6 linked regions of the Homo sapiens genome follow. The protein of the gene in region 3 purifies or fractionates together with the protein of the main gene of each other region. This does not show direct contact. Each region holds a gene or a part of one and is shown on either strand. Other genes may lie near its edges.

Region 1 (3,500 bases), on a different chromosome or scaffold from region 3:
TGCTGCCCACCGACCCTGAGCTGCACTCAGACAGAGCCTCTCAGGCACCTGAGAATGCTAGAAGGGCCTCAACTTACCCTCCTGGAAACCAGGTGTCACCAGGCACACCACCGCCTCGACAGCCACATACAGTCAGATGTGCCTGAACACTCCAACCCCTGCCCGAGAACACCGGGCACCCACCTTGAGGTCCTCATGCTTGGGCATGATGGTGATCTTGTTGCCATCCACGCTGAGGATCTTGCCCTGCAGGTTGATGAGCTCACCCTCACAGACCTCCACGTTGTCCCCAGGTTGGAAGTTGTGCTCCCGCTCCTTCCCTGCAGGGGCAGTCGTAGGGCTGACTCGGGGGTTGCCACCATGGGCCGCCCCTGCTCCTTGGCCCAGGTTATAGAGGGGGATCAAATACCTGTGCTCTCAGTCACCACCTCCAGGTCAATGCCCTCTGGCTGGTCCTCAAACTTTTCCAGCTCAGAGAGTGTTGGCTTCACACCCTCCGTGATCTAAGCCCCCAGCGGTGAGGGGAAGAGAAGGAAATGGACCGAGGTCAGTGCAACAGCCCAGCTGAGTGGGCTGAGTGGGTCCTAGGGGAATAATTCTCCTAGGGAACACTCCTAACTTGAGGAGTGGGACAGAACCAGATAACCCACAGCCCAGGGCATCACCTGCAGGAGAACACTCACACCACCCCCATTACCAACACCCCTCTGGGACCCTCACCACAGCAGACATGGCGAAGCTCTTGAACAGAAAGCCCTTCCGGCTGTAACGGTTCCCCTCAAAGATGAGGAAGTCACCATCAGAGGCAACATCACCCCCCAGGGACCTGGAATTTGATGGGGGAGAGAAGATTAGAAGGGAGAGTCAAGAAGAAAATCTTGCTGTACCTCAGTCTTCTCAGCTGGCAACAGAAGGAGAGGACCACAGGCAGACTGACCCATCCCATCCCAGCACACACCCTCTTGGCAGCAGTGACTTCTCACAAACCCCAAAGGCCCGCCTCCCACCTCCCTGCACTCCTCCACCCATTCCCTGATTTATCTTTGAGCACCGATCACCATCTGACAATCTAGTGTTTGACCTGTCCCCCTAACTAGCATGTCAGCTCCAGAAGGTCAGGGATGTAACATTCACTAAATTTCACCAAGAATAGTGCCCAGTACACAGAAAGTATGCAGTAAACATTAGCTGAACAAAATAACAGTTTCAGACAATGATACCAGTGAATATTCGCAGAGCGCTCAGCCTGGCCTGCACACTCATGACCTCACAGGCTCTTCCCCAAATCTGTGGCATCAGTAACTGCTCATCATTTCCAGGTGAGGGAATGCAGGCTCAGGAAGGTCACATCACATGCCCAAGGGTGCCAAGCCACAGTCTTGACAGGATTCAAAAGCAGGCAGGTGGGACTCCCAAGCCTGCAGCTCCCGGCCCCAAATGTGGAGTGGCGGCCGCTTAGTGCCTGTTCCGAGTCTCCGGGGTGGGGAAGGAGCCTCCTTCATGGAGGAGCAGGTCAAGTTCCTCCTGCGCTCATGCAATCGCCTTCTCCCATGGTGAATCTGGGAGAGGGGCCAGCATGCTCTGCTGGGCATGCTGGGGTACTTGGTCAGCTGGCTTGCTGGGGGGTAAGGGAGCACTAGGGTTTGTTCTTTGCAAAGAGAGGTTCAGGTGAGTCGAAACCAGTGGTATAAATGGGTCCGAACTCAGGCAGGTGAAGTATTAGCAAGGCCCTTGGGTGCAGACTCAAAGGTGCATTCCACAGCTCTTCCTTTATCTGAAGGAAAACCTGACTGGCTGAATCACACACAATTAGTTCTAGAACAGGACCAGAGGGAAGAGTGTCACTGGCACCTCTCGTTTCTCCATGTCCTCCTCTCCTGCCCTCCCTGCCGGAGCCCCCAGTTGGCCCTGGGATGTTGAAATTCCTGGGCTGCTCCAATTCTCTACCCAGCTAGGGAGTCTGGGGGGCATCCTGAGGGAAAGGCACTCCATACCCCCCCATCTCAAGTGGGCATAAGCAGATCAGGAAAGGAGACTTTCTAAAGCCTGACATAGTCCATGAATCCCATTTCAATATATCACACCATGGATCACACTTACTACGTGCCAAGGGCATTCTGAGTACATATGCATACTAATTTATTTAATTCTCACTATAATCTATAATCTGAGGAAGCAGAGGTTGTTTTCTTTTTTTTTGAGACGGAGTCTCGCTCTGTCACCCAGGCTGGAGTGCAGTGGCACGATCTCGGCTCACTGCAATTTCTGCCTCGTGGGTTTAAGCGATTCTCCTGCCTCAGCCTCCCAAGTAGCTTGGATTACAGGAGCTGACCACAACCCTTGGCTAATTTTTGTATTTTTAGTAGAGACAAGGTTTCACCATGTTGGCCAGGCTGGTCTTGAACTCCTGACCTCAAGTGATCCGCCCGCCTCGGCCTCCCAAAGCGCTGGGATTATAGGTGTGAGCCATCACGCCCAGCCTCATCAATCTTTTTAAATATTTTTTTAACTTTTTTCTTTTTATTATTATTATTATTTTAAAAGATGGGATCTCATTATGTTGCCCAGGCTGGTCTCGAACTCCTTGCCTCAAGCAAGCCTCCTGCCTTAGCCTTCCAAAGTGCTCCCTCCCGCTGCGCCCAGCCTCATCAATCTTTATAGCAGAAGAAACTGAGGCACAGGGATGTGAAGTGACTTGCCTGAGGCTATACTGCCAAGCTAACCAATTCACAGGCTAAACCTGTGGCGGGGCCACCCCTGGGGAGGAACCTGCAAAAGGCACATTCTACACACCGGCCCTGGGGACCCAGCCCAGCCAGTCCCCAAGGACACGCACCTGATCTTCTCAGCATCAAACAGCCTCTGTGGAGGCCGCTTAAACTTCTTCCTTTTGGCAAACCAGTCTTTCTATGGAGGAAAGGGGCATGGGTGGGAAGGGTGAGGGAGGGGGCTTGGCCACCAGTGGGATCGAGCACACTCCCTCCCCCCCAGGCCACAGATTCCCCTGAGTACCAAGCTCATGCGGGCCTTGATGCGATCGTAGTCGATGCGTGGGATCATCTTCAGGGAGATGGTGTTCTGGCTGGGCTCCACGTAGTCCACCTGAGCAGGGCGAGCAGAAGGTCAGCAGGGCCCCACTCTCCTCCCTGACCCCAGACACAAGAAGGGTCAGGAGATGCTAGGAAGGAGAAGGGACGCAGGATGGTGGGGAAGAAACCAGGCTGCTGACCACTCCCAAAAGTCCCACGCTAGCTTGTCTGTCCCCTCAACTCTGGCACTGAGTAGCCACTGCCTGCTTGGTATCTCCACCTGGATGTCTAAAGGTCCCTCAAATCCAGGACGACCGCAGCCAAACCGCTGATTCCCCCAAACCTGCCGCCTCCCACTCCATTCTTCCCTCTGCTCAGGCACACAACCTGGGAGCCACTCTTGACTCCTTTGTTTCTCTTACACCCACACCCGACCCGTTGGCAAATTCCATCAGCTCTGCCTTCAAAATA
Region 2 (3,500 bases), on a different chromosome or scaffold from region 3:
CACAGCCACTGTGGATAACAACATGACAGTACCTAGTAGACTTGAAGCTTTAAGAGCAAGGATTAGACTTTCATTATTTCACAGAGGAAAAAAAATATCGCTGCACTTCTCATTGTAACTTTATAAATAAATTATCAATAGTATATTCCAATTTTGGATAACATTTTCAGACCAATGGACTTAAAGTATATAGCTCTGACACTAAAATGGCATATTCAATTTTTAACAGACAATGAAGTAACTGGCCCCAGATCACATAATGAAATAGGTCAAAGCCAAGAATAGAAACCATGCCTTTTCTGAATCCAGTATTTTTCCCCATATACCATCTAGCCTTTTTTTTTCAAACGAAATAGTTCAAGATTCTATGCAAAAGCAATCCTGGAAAATGATAAAATATATAGTATTTTTACTTATGAGAAAAAATAATGGAATCATGAAAACAGATTATCATCTATGAAGAGCCAGTTGACAGTAGTATTTAAATAATAAGAATAAAAATTAAAATCTAGCATGCCACTTCAGCAATGAAAATATCTGCACTGTAGCCACATGGGGCTATGGGAGCCCTTGAAATACAGCTAATAAGACTGAGAAACTGAATTTATTTTATTTTATTTCACTTTAATTAATTTAAATTTAAATAGCTAAATGTTACTAATGGCTAACCTATTGATAGTGCAGAGTTAGAATGCATTTTAAAACAGTAATAAGTGGCTCACTAAATCAGAGCAAGCATATTAAAATAGTAAGAAATGTCAAATAATTGGAGAGCACTACTTAATGAAAAAAATACCTTTATATTCATCAGGATATTTCTCATATTCCATACAAAATGTAAGAAATTTCATTAGCATTCGCTTTTCTACCATAGTAAGTTGTTTGCTATTAAAGACATCTGCTCTGGAACACGGAACCTGAAAAATATTATGATTTTAAGTTAAGAAACTGCTTCCTAATGATATAACTATTCCAAATTACACTTTTTTCCCCTTTACATATAACAGGATTATCGTTTCCACTCTAGCCAGGCTTTTTCACATCACCGTCCATCAGTACTAATGGCATCTCTGCTAACTTCAGAGCTAATTGTGAGCTTTCTTACTTAATTCTGCCAAGTTACTCCCCATGCCATTAAAAGGCCAACGGCATGTCATCCTAACAGAGAAAAATTTAGCAGTGCTATCTAAAACAAACACTGTGGTTCTCCCTATGTACATGTTAGTACATTTTTATGCCTTTTCTCCAATTAATCTGCCTTTGTGAGTTGATTTTTCAGTGAAACTTCAGAGGCTTAAGAGGGAGTGTTTCCCTTGGCCCCTACAGTTTTGGTGCTGTGAGCAGGATAGCAAAGCTCTGCTCTTCTGGAAGCTGCAGTGAAGAACCCAGGATCTGATCAGCTGTCATAAGGGTAAGAATTTTTTCCCAACCAGGCTCCGGGCCTCCTCCTCTGTGTGGAATCTGATCAAGTGGACAGCAAAAATCACCGTTTCTTTCTTTTCCCTCTCCAAAATCTTGATTAATGGGAGAAAAGGATTTGTGTGACTAGTCTTGGGTATAGTAACTCTGGTGTGCTTTTTGGTTTTTTGTGTGCTGCTTGGTACCAACACCAAGCTGCAGAGTAAGCCATGAGAAAATTAGCACTAGAAATTTTAATTAAGCATTTACATTTGTAAATCACCACGGAGGACTGGAATTTACTGCTTTATGAGGAAAATAACAATCTTATTTGCTTATCTTTCCAAAACAAACCATAATAACTTAAGCTGATGCCCAGTTACAATTCTTGATCAGCACAGTACCTGTTCCACTCGTCCTTCTCGAAATGCAAGAATCCTGGTAATATTTTTAAACTCTGCATATCGACTAACATTAGATTTGATTAGAAGATCAATTAGTAATCCTCGAGAATACAGCAGCTGTACAAAGAAAATATTTTACAAGATAAAAGTTGAAATAGTAGAAAAATTGGAAAACAATAAAGATACATAATTTTGCTATATTTTTTATTATTTGTAGAAACAATCATACCTATAAATATTATAATACATAACACAATCTATTACAGGCTCAGAATTGATTAGCTGAAATTCAAAATTCAAAAAACTTTGCAATCCATAAGTTTTTACAAAACATGTTTAGCAGCAAAACCTGATCCATACTGATAAGGCACTCTGGCTTTGTTTGTCCAAATTAACATAAATATTCATATATTTCACTGCAGAAATAATGTGTTTAGTTAGAGTTCCTCCTCAGACCCTGCTAATAATTTAACCTAACATATAACATATCAGTATATGTACTTCATTACTTTCTAAAATATATTTTTTTAATCTTAATGATAGAATACACCAGGCCCTGAGGGTTTTGGATAAGAATCTATAGTCTTACACAAAGCCAGGTAGTTATAAGAAGAAATCAGTCCAGTGAACCTCCCTACCCCATCAAAAAAAGAAAAAAATATTTGTGATGCATTTACACTGAAAAAGTCAAATTATAAGGTACTTCTGTAATTCTAGAAGTCTGGGTTTATATGAGATATGTCTTTCTCAAAAAGTGAAGATGATGATTATTGCTGGCATGTATGGGAGAAATTGATTTAATCTTTCAACATCTCATAAGTAATATCAGAGAGATAAAATCAATAATGTAAACAGTATTATCTAGCATGTTAACCGTATGGTTAAATGCAACAGATTTGACTATTTCCTATATTAAGATACTCTTAATGCCTATAACTCAATAAATATTAAAAATGAATGTTACATCTATAATAAATAAATGGGAAAATTAGCTTTACTATACAAAGAAAAAGGAATCTCAAAAATCAATCTAAACCATTAGTCTGAGCAACTAATAAGTCAGTAAAGACTATCAGTAAATCAATACCATTCAAGTAAAATTTTATAAACTAATAGTTCAGCATTCTGCAAAACAAAATTGACATCACTTTTTTGAAGCTAATCTGATCATCCTGATTAAATATGGCACGTTACTTCATTACCCTCTTCCTAACACACTACATTACTGAAAGAGACCATGTTTTAAAGAATATATTGCCAATTCTTAACTCTATAATAATGATAAAAAATAGTTACTTCAAAAATCACTTGTTTAAAAAGATACACATTTGAGACTCAAGGATCCCTGCATAGCCATAATAATGTCACAAACATTAAGATATAAAATATGAAACTGCATTTTTATTTAATAAGATCCAATAAACCTTAAGGTTTAATGCCAGCTTGAAAAATAATGCATTTAAGATATCACAAGAACAAAAACAAATTTCAATTAAAATTATACTAGATTTTTGTTTCTGAAGCTCACAAATAATAAATGTGTACATATCAGAATCTAAGCCTCTTTTTCTTTTTTTTTTATTGAGACAGAGTCTCTCTGCTGCTCAGGCTGGAGTGCAGTGGCTCAATCTCAGCTCACTGCAACCTCTGTCTCCTAGGTTCAAGCGATTCTCCTGCCTCAGCCTCCCGAGTAGCTGG
Region 3 (3,500 bases):
TCTTCTCCACCCCTTTATCTAATTAATCATTAAATTTTCTCCTATTCTCTAATGTATCCACATTTCTCTAGCTCCTCTGCTACTAACCTTGGTAAGGATAGCATCACGTCTTGCCTCCTTGCAGCAGGCTTCTATCTGATATCCCTACTATCAATCTTGATCCTTTTAAAACACAAATCTGTCACAAATCCATCTGTTTCCCCGTCTTACAAGATGAATCTCCCTAAATTCTTAACATGATTTCTAAGTCTTTCTTGAGTTAGCCCACTGCTTACCTTTCTAGCCTCCATTCTTTCCTCACTTCCTCTCTCATGCTCTGTTTCAGCCATAATAATGTGCTATGCTCTCTACCCTCTGGGTCCACTGCACATGCTGCTCCCTGTCTGGACCTTGTCTTTAACTGTACCTCCTCTGAGAAACCTCTAATCCCTGCAACCAGATTAGGAGTCCTTCCTGTAATTAACTGTCTGTTCTTCCCTATGTTATAACTGCCAGCTTACTTGTCTATATTCTAAACTAGAATATAAACTCCTCAAGAGCAGGGATGACATTGATCCTGCTCAATCTCCATGAGGGAAGAGATTTATGTATCTTCTTGAGAGTTATGTCTCTAGTTCCTAGGATAACTCCTGGCATATAGCATGCATGTAGGTAATAAATACTTGCTGAATGAATGAGCTTACTTCATATTGTAGTTGTAAAAATTAAAGTAACATGGGAAAAGCAACTAATTCATAGCAAGCACTTATATATATACTATTTGTTACCAAAATTAAAATTTAGCTGTATGCTCTAATAAACTTGTGTATTAGGTTACTGTGGACAAGATGGCTCAATGTGTTGACTTACCATGTGTTGATTATTAGAGATACAATTAGAGGAAAAGGTATGGCCAAATAAAACAGAAGACTGAAATCTAAGAGTGGCATATTTGACAGTATTTCTCTACTTTTCACCTTTGGGTAGTAGAAACAAAAATATCTATACCAAACAAAAAAAAAAAAGCTGAAAACCTAGCAATGAGAGAATGATGAATGAGGAAATCTTTCCAACAGTAGTGTTTCTTTAGTCTGGGTAGAGACTATTTTGACACAGGGGTGGGATACTCAGTTTGTCTCTAGTGCACCAGAAACATAAACATATTACATTTTCCCCTTTTGCTTTTCCTCAGATGCTGGCTTTTCCTTAAAATATATCAAAATACAAAAAACACAATAACCAACCTCTAAATAATTGAGTGCAGTGTGGCCTGATCTACTATATAGCTAAAACACTATAAATTCTATAAACTTGGTGTTTAATTCTTTGTAGCAATAGGCAATGGCTCTAAAATCTTGAACCATGGTACCAGGTTCATTTGTGGGAGTAAAACAGTATGTGTGCCCTTTTACCTATGTTAATAAAAACAGCAGCTTCTAACTAAACTTATTCATTTTACTATTTATAATAAAGGTTACTTTTTTTGGTGGAGGGCTAATACAAAAACAATAAAATCAAACTGATCAGTAAGTAGTCTACTGCATCTTTCAGTAAAGTGAACCAAAGTAATTTGAAAGACGTTAAAAAAACACTATAATGTAACAGTTTAATTAAAACACTTAACCTACTCTAAAATATTTTATTATTTTGTATTTTGTTTGTATGGTACTGATACAAGCTCCGTAAAAAATCAAATTGGATTTACTACTTCTATTACTGCTCTTTGACTAAATAATGTTAACTACTTTTCTAACAGCTTGACTTGGGCCCAAATTTGACTTACCAAAAGTTAGAGAACGAATCCTAGATCACAGAGATACAGGGTGAGCATCCCAAATCTGAAAACTGAAGTCCAAAAGGCTTCAAAATCTGAAACTTTCTAAGTGCTGAGATGATATTCAAAGGAAATGCTCATCGGAGCATTTTGGATTTCAGAATAGGGATGGTCAATCTCTAAGTATATAACGCAAATATTTCAAAATCTGAAAGTATCTGAAACATTTTTGGTCCCAAGCCATTTTGGATAAGGTATACTCAACCTGCAATTCTAATATAACCCATTATTCAATTCCAGTAAAAGAATAGGAACAACTGTTTAAAGCAGTCAGAAAAAAAAAAAAGTTTGGTTTTTGTCACTTTTATTCTTTAATAGTTTACCATACCAATTTTCAATCCTACATTAACTCACACGTTAATTAATTCATTCACTAATTAACCAAGGACTATATCAGGTATAATTCCTCCACGTTAGGCCATATTTCATATCATACTCCTTGCTGTTAGATGGCTCAATGAAAGTATTTGAGGAGCAAAATAAAAAGGGATCTCCTTCAATTAGAGATCTTTTTAGTTTTTAAGAAGCAAAATGTTGCGATAAAACCTGAACTAACAATCAGTAATCTGTAAATTGTCTAGTGTAAAACCTCTCAAAGTGGGTTTTCAAAAAAATAACATTGAATAAACGTGTGGATAGATTTAAGAAGATCAACATCACTTCAGAGAATTAAGACTCCCTGCAAAAAGGGTTTTGGATATAAATACAAGTATGCATTTAACTCAACAATACAATGAAATATCCAATCAGAAAACAAAAAAAATTATGTACATGATCCTGAAATAACTAGATAATTTCTGCCAAATGACAGGGGGCAAAATAAAAGTACAAAAGTTATAAACATATTGGAGAAAATGAAATAGAATTTTCTTACCCAACGATGACTTTACAATTGATTTAATTCCTGCATAAACCAATGATCCTTTGTTGCCTGGAGATTTCTGATCCATATCTTCTGTGTATTGCTTCATAAGTATTTAAATGCATAGGAAATACTAGTGATGCATGACAATATATTTCAAAGCTAAATTTATTTTGATTTGGAGCCAATTCATAATAAGTATCAGTGTAAATAAGGTGGTTCGACTCTATTGCAGAGATACACTTTTCTTCCTCCTACACAATCTACAAAGCAGTATTTCAAGTTCGAAAGTTTAGAACAATTTTACTTTATAATGTTAGTATTATGTAACTTGTATTTGTATATAAAACATTGAGCATATTTACAGACTGACCTTTTGGCAAACTTCAAGAACATTTCTACCTGATTCACCTCACAAAATTCACAATGAAAAGGATATAGTGCAGAGTATACCAGAGTGACTTGAGCTGTGGATCTTCATTTCCAGCTAAAATGTGGTTCCTCCACACCTGCTCTGTATCAAGTCCATACCTTGATAAAGCCCGAAGACGCATCTTCGTTGCTATATCTTTTTCTAAAGAATTATCATTTTCTTCTTCCGTACATTCATATAAATGACGACCACAAGCCCACATTAAAGATGTAATTGGGCTCCAGGCAAGAGATATCCTTTCAAAAACAGTGAAGTCTGACATTGTTCGGTTGGGAGTTACAACTATCATTCGATTTTGACTTGTTGGATGCCACGCAAAGGAAGCAATGTAATTGTCACAAGGTTGCACACTTCTTTCAATTATTGTGGGTTCAGTTTCATCCCCAATGGGA
Region 4 (3,500 bases), on a different chromosome or scaffold from region 3:
TTGCCTCCAAGATCTCTGAGCCAAAAGTTTTCAACTGGACACTTTAAGGAAAGAAACTGACCTCGAATATGGACTTTCACACCATGACCCTAAGCCATGTCCCATCTCTCTTTTTCAGGCCTGATGATCCCACCACACCCCAGCCTCCATCCTATCTCAGTGCCTTTGCCCAGGATGTTCTGCCTCCTTTGCTGCCTTACCAAAGCTATTTGTCCTTCTTGGCTCTGCTCAAATGTCACCACCTTTGGGAAACCTTCCCAGCTCTCCTGGGTACTTCCTCTTCTGGGCCCCATAGCACTTAACACCTATCTTTGTTTCTTTGTCTCCCTTTCTTGACTGTGAGATACATGAGGGAAGGGTTCCTTGTATGCACTTCCTTTAACACACTGGATGGAATACAACTGACTCTCAATAAATATTTGCTTAATAAATGAAGGATCCAATAATAATGGGAAACATGTTCCGGAACACTAGTGCTGTTTTCTCTTTTTCCAGGTCACTGACCTATCACCCCACATAAGTATGTGAAAGATAACTGACAAGCTAAACAAGTGTGGTTTTGTCTTCTAGATATTAATAACTTTCAGGCTTAGAAGGATCGACAGGACTCAAACAGCCTGCTTGCCTCAAATTAACTGGGCTGCCTAAACTGTCTGACTCAAGAAAAATATGTACCTTTTCCTGAAGTTGTACCAGCTTCTGCTGGTAGGCATCTCTCTGTGCGCACACCTCCTGGTACTGCTGCAGGTGCTCATCCTTGGCGGAGGCCAACAAATGTTCACATTTTGCTTCCCACTGGGTCTGTAGCTCAGCCTGTACTAAAGACAGCTGCCAAGAGAAAGTAATGACCATATCATCCTTGGGGGTGGGGGAGTGAGATTCCATTGCACCTAGGGAAACCCATCTTTCAAAAAGCAAAAGAATAAGCTAACAGCCCAGATTTAACTGGGAAACTGTTTAAAAGACTCATTACTTTTAAAATAAATGCACTTCTTAAGATGTCATTGGTTGTCAGGACTCCAAAAGGTACTCCAAGCAGACAAAAGTGTGCCTATCTAGATAGGTCCCTGGAGGGCAGGGCCATGTGATCACTGCTTTTCAGGGTCTGAACCCTAAACTTTATAGGTTCAGAAACTTTTTTTCACCAAAATTCCCAGAGGTGGTCAAATTGAGGGCACCAATGCACTCTAATTAAACAAATGTATGCATATAAATTTTAAGCTTATAATGAGAAAGGTTGCTGTTGCACAGACTAGAGATCCAGCTGTGTCCTGCCACTATCCCTGGTTCCCTTCCTGATGACCTAAATCAATCCCTTCTTTTCAAGGATGATAATGTGCCTGAAGGATGGTGTCCAATGGTTGATGGTTTTGGCCTTACCATGTTTGGAATTTTTTTTGTAAGGAAACTATTTTTCATTTTTACTTATGTAATTAAATATTAACTAAGCTTTAAAAAAAGAAAGAAGATTCTCCATTTGATTCCTGGCTCTCCTGCACATATCTGGATTACTTTTTCTACCTTTCTCCAAAGTGAGAGTATCAGCTATGAGAAATGTCATCCTAAAGGGTAAGGAAGAAACCAGAAGCTTTTCTCTCTGAGTCCTTCACACCTTCCCTCTATTTTCAAAGTGCTTCAGTTTCCCATTACCTGCTCTGCAGCTGCTTGGTCTGTGGACACTCGAGTCTTTTTCAAGAGCTGTCGAAGTTTGTCCAATTCCTCCTGGTATGACTTGCGAATTTCATCTATCTCCTCCTCGGCCTGAGAACGCTCTTGAGCTGACTTCTTTTTCCTTTCTGAGAGGTTCTTAGGAACAAGAGAACCATCATCAGCTCTAGCTTGTTAACAGAGAATAAAGAGGGATGATGGCGGTGGCAGTTAATTACCTTGTGGAATCCTTACTCCATTTCTGAAAACTCCATTTTTTAGTTGAATTTTCCCCTAAATATTTAACATTCTTGGCTACTGGGTGAGGAAAATGGTGACAGGAGAAGGAAAACAAGAAGAGCTGTATCTACCCCTCTATTAAGAGCTAGGGAAATTGGGAGGCCGAGGCGGGCGGATCACGAGGTCAGGAGATCGAGACCATCCCGGCTAAAACGGTGAAACCCCGTCTCTACTAAAAAATACAAAAAATTAGCCGGGCGTAGTGGCGGGCGCCTGTAGTCCCAGCTACTTGGGAGGCTGAGGCAGGAGAATGGCATGAACCCGGGAGGCGGAGCTTGCAGTGAGCCGAGATCCCGCCACTGCACTCCATCCTGGGCGACAGAGCGAGACTCCGCCTCAGAAAAAAAAAAAAAAAAAAAAAAAAAAAAAAAAAAAAAGAGCTAGGGAACATCCTAACTTTAATAAAGGTACAGGAAATCAGACATTCTCATACCCTGATAGTAAGAAAACGAATGGATATACTCTCTTTGGATAGTAATCCTGTGAAAAGCCTTTAAAAACATACGTATCCAGAAATTCCACAAATTGTAATTAAGGATTCAATAAGTCATAGTCATAAAGAGTGTGTTACAAGGATGGTCACTGTAGTAGTATCTATAGTAATGACAAACTGAAAACAGCCAAGAGGTTAGAAGGAATTGGTTAAAAATAAATAAATAAAATGGAAAAAATCCTGGAAAAAAATGCAATTGCAGACCAAGATTTACCCTCTTAAAAGGCACTGGGCCAAAACAGCTTTACCTAATGAGATTTACTGAAGCCTCAGGAGCAGTTTATTATTTTCATATTTAAACGATTCCAGAACAGACAAAAAGATAGAAATGTTCTCACTTTGTTCACTTAGTATTTCCTGATATTAAAATTTTAACCAACAAAAGATACTATAAATAAAGTTAAAAGACAGCAAGCTAGAAAAATATTTACAACATCTATGACTGACAAAGGATTGATACCCTTAAAAGGGTTTACAAATCAAACTAATAATAGGAAAAAGGATAAAGGACACTAAAGAGAGAATGTACATAAGAAATACAAATAGGTATTAAATATATGAAAGCTTTACTACTAATAAAAATACACATTAAAACAAGATAACATATTTCACCTGTCAGACTAATGAAGATTAGAAAAAGTGATATATGTAGAGTGGGGAAGAATGTGACAAATGGGCTCACTCACATACTGCTGAAAGTGTAAGCACTATTCTTTGAGGATAACCTGGTAATATTTATAAAAATTCAAATATGTAGCCTTCCCTTTGATCCCATGATTCTTACTCATGCAATCCATCACGTAGGAATGCTCAAACAAATTTGCAAAAACAGTTATATAATATGAGAATGTCCATAGAAGCAGTGCTTAAAATAATGAAAAAATAAAAACATAAATATCCATCGATAGGCAAATCATTAAACAAATTATGGTACAGCCTCATAGTAGGCTACTATGCAGCAGTTAACTACGAGTGAGAAAGATCTCCTTCTTATGTAGTACAAGTCCATGACATTTTCCTAAAAAACATTAAACGTGATACCACTACTGTAAAAAAAGTT
Region 5 (3,500 bases), on a different chromosome or scaffold from region 3:
GGTGGAAGTTGCAGTGAGCCAAAATCACACCACTGCACTCCAGCCTGGGCGACAGAGGGATACTCCATCTCAAAATAACATAACATAACATAACAAACATAACATAACATAACATAAAAAACATAACACCACACAACATAACAATAAAAATGAAAACTTTAAATTTTTTTTTTACTGCTCCTTGCAGAGCAGGGATAACCCATAGGCAGCGTAACCAGAGTAGCCAGGTTTTATAGAATGTTTTCTCCTCAAATTGAAATATTGAATTGTTAAATATGAGTGGATAGCCAGGCATGGTGACTCATGCCTGTAATCCTAGCACTTTAGGAGGCCAAGGCATGAGGACTGCTTGGGCCCAGGAGTTCAAGACCAGCCTGAGCAAAAATTAAAAAAAAAAAAATTAGCCAGGCATGATCCTGTGGGCTGGGCGTCTGGGGTCTTAGCTACTCGGGAGGCGGAGGTGGGAGATGGAGAATCATTTGCACCCAGGGAGGTTGAGGCTGCAGTGAGCCGTGACTGCACCACTGCACTCCAGTCTGGACAACAGAGAGAGGCCCTGTCTGAAAGGGAAAAAGAAAAAAAAAAAAGGCAGGGGCAATGGTGCAGTGGCTCACGCCTGTAATCCCAGGACTTTGGGAGGTTGAGGCAGGCAGATCACCTGGGGTGAGGAATTTGAGACCAGCCTGGCCAACATGGTGAAACCCCATCTCTACTAAATATATAAAAATTAGGCCGGGCATGGTGGCTCATGTCTGTAATCCCAGCACTTTGGGAGGCCGAGGAGGGCGGATCACGAGGTCAGCAGTTCGAGACTAGCCTGGACAACATAGTGAAACCCTGTCTCCACTAAAAATACAAAAATTAGCCAGGTGTGGTGGCGTGCACCTGTAATCCCAGCTACTGAGGAGGCTGAGGCAGGAGAATCCCTTGAATCCAGGAGGCGGAGGTTGCAGTGAGCTGAGACCATGTCATTGCGTTCCAGCCTGGGTGACAGAGTGAGACTCCATCTCAAAAAAATAAAAATATAAATATAAAAATTAGCCAGGCATGGTGGTGCACGCCTGTAGTCCTAACTACCTGGGAGGCTGAGGCAGGAGAATCACTTGAACCCAGGAGGCGCAGGTTGCAGTCAGCCAAGATTGTGAGACTGCACTCCAGACTCCAGCCTGGGCAACAGAGTGAGACGCCATCTCTTTAAAAAAAAAGAAAGAGTGGGTGACATCAAAGCCCTTTATTTTATTTATTTATTTATTTAGAGACAGAGTTTTGTTCTTGTTGCCCAGGCTGGAGTGCAATGGCGTGATCTCAGCTCACCACAACTTCTGCCTCCCAGATTCAAGCAATTCTCCTGCCTCAGCTTCCCGAGTAGCTGAGATTACAGGCATGCGCCACAATGCCTGGCTAATTTTATATTTTTAGTAGAGACGGGGTTTTACCATGTTGGTCAGGCTGGTCTCAAACTCCTGACCTCAGGTGATCCACCTACTTCAGCCTCCCAAAGTGTTGGGATTACAGGCGTCAGCCACTGCACCCAGCCATCAAAGCCCTTTAGAGCAACCCAGAATTTTGTTTTTTTCTCTTAAGAACTATTTAAAAGAGTATCTTATTTACTTTCAATTAACATTTTGGTTCCTTGAACAGCATGGCATAGCCATTAGAGGGAAAAAGAAAGGATTTGAATCCAGAATAAGTAAGCAGGAATCACTGCTTCTGGCTACGCCTAGACTGTATAGTCCGGCAGATAATAAACTTCCTCACTCACTCAAGAGTTGTTGGGAAGATAATGCTAGATTACACAAAGCTCCCAGGATAGTACCTTGCACAATGTGGTGGGCGATCATCAATATATATTTCTTCCTCCCCAATCCCTACTCACCCAGAGTAGGCATTTAACAAATAGTTTGTGAAAAAATGGGACAGATGTGGTGGATCACACCTGCAATCTTAGCACTTTGGGAGGTCAAGGTGTCAGGAACTCCACTTGAGGCCAGGAGTTCAAGACCAACCTGGGCAACAGGCAGGTTGTGTATTTTTTTTTTTTTTTTTTTTTTGAGCCGGAGTCTCGCTCTGTCGCCCAGGCTGGAGTGCAGTGGCGTGACCTCGGCTCACTGCAACCTCCGCCTCCCGGGTTCAAGTAATTCTCCTACCTCGGCCTCCAGGGTAGCTAGGATTATAGGTGCATGCCACCACACCCGGCTAATATTTTGTATTTTAGTAGAGACAGGGTTTCACCGTTTTGCCCAGGCTGGTCGCAAACTCCTGAGCTCAGGCAATCCGCCTGCCTCAGCCGCCCAAACTCCCAGGATTACAGGCATAAGCCACCGTGCCTGGCCTATTTTTTTTTTTTTTTTTTTTTGAGATAGGGTCTTGCTCTGTTGACCAGGCTAGACTGCGGTGGCACCGTTATAGCTCATTGAAACCTCAAACTCTTGGGACCCAATGATCCTTCCACCTCAGCCTCCAGAGTAGCTAGGACTATAAGCGTCACTTTACAATTTTTTTTTTAGTGGCAACATAGTTTGATAAGAAGAGAACTACAGTCATAAAAAAATGGAATCATGTCCACTGCAGCAACATGGATGGAGTTGGAGGCCACCATTATCCTAAGTGAACTAACTCACAAACAGAAAACCAAATACTGCATGTTCTTACCTATAAGTGGGATGGAAATAATAGACACTTGGGACTCCAAAAACAAGGACAGGGAAGAGAATGAAGGTTGAAAAATACAATGTTCAGGCTGGGTGTGGTGGCTCACGCCTGTAATCCCAGCACTTTGGGGGGCCAAGGCAGGAGGATCATGAAGTCAGGAGATTGAGACCATCCTGGCTAACACGGTGAAACCTCGTGTCTACTAAAAATACAAAAAATTAGCCAGGCGTGGTGGCAGGTGCCTGTAGTCCCAGCTACTTGGGAGGCTGAGGGAGGAGAATGGTGTGAACCCAGGAGGCGGAGCTTGCAGTGAGCCGAGATCGCGCCACTGCACTCCAACCTGGGTGACAGAACAAGACACTGTCTCAGAAAAAAAAAAAAAAACAATGTTAAGACACAGATACAACATTCTTTATCTGTATCTGTTCTGTCAGATACAAGGTTCACTGTGTAATGGATACAATAGAAGCCCAATCCCCACCAGTACACAATATACCCATGTAACAAACATTCCCATGTACTGCCTGAATTGAAAGTTAAATTAAAATTTGTTTAAAAAAGAAGAGAATTACTTGCCCTCATCCCTTGAAATTATGAAGAGAGATTTCTTACAGTTTCTGAGGCAGTAAATAAAAAATTCTAAGAAGAGTGATATAATTCTTACCCTTCTGTAAATCTTCCTTAAGAGACTTGACCTGCAAAAGCAGAGGGCTGAAAAAGAAAGCAACAAGAGAGTTGGGATACCGTGAACAGTAACTCCCTAGCAACCTTCATCCCCGACAAAAGGCAAATAGGTCACTCTGGCCATTCTGTGACTTACAGCACAACAACGGGAGAAAGCTCCCTCA
Region 6 (3,500 bases), on a different chromosome or scaffold from region 3:
TTCCTTATCTTCTGCTTCAACCAAGTAAACTTTTCAACTTTTACAACTCAGGTCAAGACACATTTTTTTTTATGAAACTTTATCCCATAACTAGCCAACTTTAAGAGTTTTATCAAATCATTCATTTGAACAGCAAATTTTATTTTTAGCTCATGGTGTGTCACAGTGGTCAAAGATGACCACCAACTGGTCATCTTTGTGTTTTTATGTTACTGTAAACACATTTTATGTATTTACCATTTTTATATTACTTTCACTCCTCACAAGATATTTTCACATAATGCTAAAATCTCTTTTTTGGCTGTGCACGGTGGCTCACGCCTGTAATCCCAGCACTTTGGGAGGCCAAGGCGGGCAGATCACTTGAGGTCAGGAGTTCGAGACCAGCCTGGCCAATATGGTGAAACCCCATCTCTATTAAAAATACAAAAATTAGCCAGGAGTGGTGGCATGTGCCTGTAGTCCCAGTTACTCCAGAGGCAGAGGTTGCAGTGACCTGAGATCATGTCACTGCACGACAGCCTGGGTGACAGAGTGAGATTCCGTCTCAAAAAAACCCCAAAATAAACAAAATCCCTCTTTTAACAGTGAAAGGCACATAATATACCAATTATTAAATGGTTGAATTATGGACTTTTGGGAAGAAGCAATGACTCCAAAAATGGTATCTAAGATAAAGGGGGCTGGGTGCCATGCTTCACGCCTGTAAACCCAACACTTTGGAAGACTGAGGATAGCTGGAAGCCCAGAGTTAAAAACCAACCTGGGCAACATAGCAAAACCTCATCTCTATGAAAAATTTAGCAGGGCGTGGTGGACATACCTATAGTCCTAGCTACTTGGGAAGCTGGGGCAGGATTGCTTGAGCCCAGGAGCTGGAAGCTGCAGTAAGCTGTGACTGCACCACCGCACTCCAGCTTAGGCAACAGAGTGAGACCATATCTCTAAAAAATAATTTTTTTGGGAGGCCGAGGTGGTAGGATCACCTGAGGTCAGGAGTTTGAGACCAGCTTCACCAATATGGTGAAACCCCATCTCTACTAAAAATACCAAAATTAGCTAGGTGTGGTGGTATGCGCCTGTAGTCCCAGCTACTTGGGAGGCTGAGACAGAATTGCTTGAACCGAAGAGGCGGAGGTTGCAGTGAGCCGAGATCATGCCACTGCACACTCCAGCCTGGAAAACAGAGCGAGACCCCCCGCCACCCCAAAAAAATTTTTTTAATAAGATTAAAGTGTTCTAGGTAGGCAGTTATTACTTGATTAAAAAAAAAAAATATTTCAGGCCAGGCACGGTGGCTCACGCCTGTAATCCCAGCACCTTGGGAGGCCGAGGCAGGCGGATCACCTGAGGTCGGGAGTTTGAGACCAGCCTGACCAATGTGGAGAAAAACTCCGTCTCTACTAAAAATACAAAATTAGCCAGGCGTAGTGGCACATGCCTATAATCCCAGCTACTCGGGAGGCTGAGGCAGGAAAACTGCTTGAAGCCAGGGAGCAGAGGTTGTAGTGAGCTGAGATCCAGCTATTGCATTCCAGCCTGAGCAACAAGAGTGAAACTCCGTCTCAAAAAAAAGGCTTTCTAAGCGTGAAGCTCCACACAATAAAACCTTTGGGTACCTCTACATTCTCACAGAGCTTACTGCATAAAAATAATTAGATCAAACACCTCATTCTTAAGTGTGCCAGACAAAGATATTAATGTACAACTTGTTTAAGAGCAGGCAGTATATGGCCAGGCGCGGTGGCTCACGCCTGTAATCCCAGCACTTCGGGAGGTCAAGGTGGGTGGATCACCTGAGGTTGAAAGTTTGAGACCAGCCTGACCAACATGGAGAAACCCTGTCTCTACTAAAAATACAAAATTAGCCGGATGTGGATGCACATGCCTGTAATCCCAGCTACTCGAGAGTCTGAGGCAGGATAATCACTTGAACCTGGGAGGTGGAGGTTGCAGTGAGCCGAGATCGCGCCATTCATTGCACTCCAGACTGGGCAACAAGTACAAAAACTCCGTCTCAAGAAAAAAAAAAAAGAGCAGGCAGTATAATATAAACCTCACCAAATTACTAAACACTTATGCATCTAGTGACTCAACCATATGAGTAGAATATTTAAATAAAGAAAAAAAAAACTATTTCCAGTTGGGCGTGGAAAAAATATACATTTTTATTTTTATTTATTTATTTTTGAGATGGAGTCTCGCTCTGTCGCCCAGCCTGGAGTGCAGTGGTGCAATCTCTGCTCACTGCAAGCTCTGCCTCCCGGGTTCATGCCATTCTCCTGCCTCAGCCTCCCAAGTAGCTGGGACTATAGGCACCTGCCACCACGCCCGGCTTATTTTTTTGTATTTTTAGTAGAGATGGGGTTTCACCATGTTAGCCAGGATGGTCTCAATCTCCTGACCTCGTGATCCGCCCGCCTCCGCCTCCCAAAGTGCTGGGATTACAGACGTGAGCCACCGCACCCAGCCCTATTTTTATTTTTTTTGAGATGGAGTTTTGTTGTTCGCCCAGGCTGGAGTGCAATGGTGCGATCCTGGCTCACCACAAACTCCGCCTCCCGGGTTCAAGTGATTCTCCTGCTTCAGCCCCCCGAGTAGCTGGGATTACAGGCGCATGCAACCACACCTGGCTAATTTTTGCATTTTTAGTAGAAATGAGGTTTCACCATCTTGGCCAGGCTGGTCTTGAACTCCTGACCTCAGGTGATCCACCCGCCTTGGCCTCCCAAAGTGCTAGGATTACAGGTGTGAGCCACCATGCCCAGCCCAAGTCTTACTTTTTATTTTTTTGAGACAGAGTCTCACTCTGTCACCCAGGCTGGAGTGCAGTGGCACAATCTCGGCTCACTGAAACCTTCGCCTCCCGGGTCCAAGCGATTCTCCTGCCTCAGCCTCCTGAATAGCTGGGATTACAGGCGCCTGCCACCATGCCCAGCTAATTTTCTGTACTTTTAGTAGAGACGAGGTTTCACCATGTTGGCCAGGCTGGTCTCTAACTCCTGACCTCGTGATCCACCCACCTGGGCCAAAGTGATGGGATTACAGGCGTGAGCCACCGAGCCCTGCCAGGTTTTACTTTTTAAACAAAAATTTTTATTCAAGACACTGCTCTACATGACTCTACGTGATGTTAAACCTTAACTAAAATTCCCTGAAGCTAGAGGTAATATATGCTTTTCTTTTTTTTCTTCTGAGATGGGAGTTTCGCTCTTGTTGCTCAGGTTGGAGTGCAGTGGAGAGATCTTGGCTCACTGCAATCTCCGCCCCCTGGTTTCAAGCAATTTTTCTGCCTCATCCTCCTGAGTAGCTGGCATTACAGGTGTGCGCCACCATACCCAGCTGATTTTTTTTGAGACGGAGTCTTGCTCTGTCACCAGGCTGGAGCACAGTGGGGCCATCTCAGCTCACTGCAACCTCTGACTCCCTGGTTCAGGCAATTCTCCTGCCTCAGCCTCCCAAGTAGCTGGGACGACACGCATGCGCCACCATGCCCAACT

What was found.
Region 1: the proteins of MIOS (region 3) and SUPT5H purify together in Homo sapiens (affinity purification with mass spectrometry, with the first as the bait; one large-scale study listed by BioGRID). This does not show direct contact.
Region 2: the proteins of MIOS (region 3) and CHM purify together in Homo sapiens (co-immunoprecipitation; one large-scale study listed by IntAct). This does not show direct contact.
Region 4: the proteins of MIOS (region 3) and FKBP15 purify together in Homo sapiens (affinity purification with mass spectrometry, with the first as the bait; one large-scale study listed by BioGRID). This does not show direct contact.
Region 5: the proteins of MIOS (region 3) and DEPDC5 purify together in Homo sapiens (affinity purification with western blotting; 3 studies listed by BioGRID and IntAct, with this or other methods). This does not show direct contact.
Region 6: the proteins of MIOS (region 3) and CCT3 purify together in Homo sapiens (co-immunoprecipitation; one large-scale study listed by IntAct). This does not show direct contact.

The regions. Positions count from the first base shown.
Region 1 is NC_000019.10:39,466,082-39,469,581, reverse strand, and holds part of SUPT5H (transcription elongation factor SPT5), read right to left. Parts: intron 3,103-3,500; coding exon 3,013-3,102; intron 2,908-3,012; coding exon 2,837-2,907; intron 1,361-2,836; exon of another isoform or gene 1,289-1,360; intron 827-1,288; coding exon 721-826; intron 504-720; coding exon 410-503; intron 321-409; coding exon 184-320; intron 1-183. UniProt on the Homo sapiens protein: Component of the DRB sensitivity-inducing factor complex (DSIF complex), which regulates mRNA processing and transcription elongation by RNA polymerase II.
Region 2 is NC_000023.11:85,957,059-85,960,558, forward strand, and holds part of CHM (rab proteins geranylgeranyltransferase component A 1), read right to left. Parts: intron 1,920-3,500; coding exon 1,803-1,919; intron 918-1,802; coding exon 797-917; intron 1-796. UniProt on the Homo sapiens protein: Substrate-binding subunit of the Rab geranylgeranyltransferase (GGTase) complex.
Region 3 is NC_000007.14:7,573,384-7,576,883, reverse strand, and holds part of MIOS (GATOR2 complex protein MIOS), read right to left. Parts: coding exon 3,115-3,500; intron 2,787-3,114; coding exon 2,688-2,786; intron 1-2,687. UniProt on the Homo sapiens protein: As a component of the GATOR2 complex, functions as an activator of the amino acid-sensing branch of the mTORC1 signaling pathway. The GATOR2 complex indirectly activates mTORC1 through the inhibition of the GATOR1 subcomplex.
Region 4 is NC_000009.12:113,172,778-113,176,277, forward strand, and holds part of FKBP15 (FK506-binding protein 15), read right to left. Parts: intron 1,807-3,500; coding exon 1,651-1,806; intron 829-1,650; coding exon 676-828; intron 1-675. UniProt on the Homo sapiens protein: May be involved in the cytoskeletal organization of neuronal growth cones. Seems to be inactive as a PPIase. Involved in the transport of early endosomes at the level of transition between microfilament-based and microtubule-based movement.
Region 5 is NC_000022.11:31,760,519-31,764,018, reverse strand, and holds part of DEPDC5 (GATOR1 complex protein DEPDC5), read right to left. Parts: intron 3,364-3,500; coding exon 3,317-3,363; intron 1-3,316. UniProt on the Homo sapiens protein: As a component of the GATOR1 complex functions as an inhibitor of the amino acid-sensing branch of the mTORC1 pathway.
Region 6 is NC_000001.11:156,321,293-156,324,792, forward strand, and holds part of CCT3 (T-complex protein 1 subunit gamma), read right to left. Parts: intron 1-3,500. UniProt on the Homo sapiens protein: Component of the chaperonin-containing T-complex (TRiC), a molecular chaperone complex that assists the folding of actin, tubulin and other proteins upon ATP hydrolysis.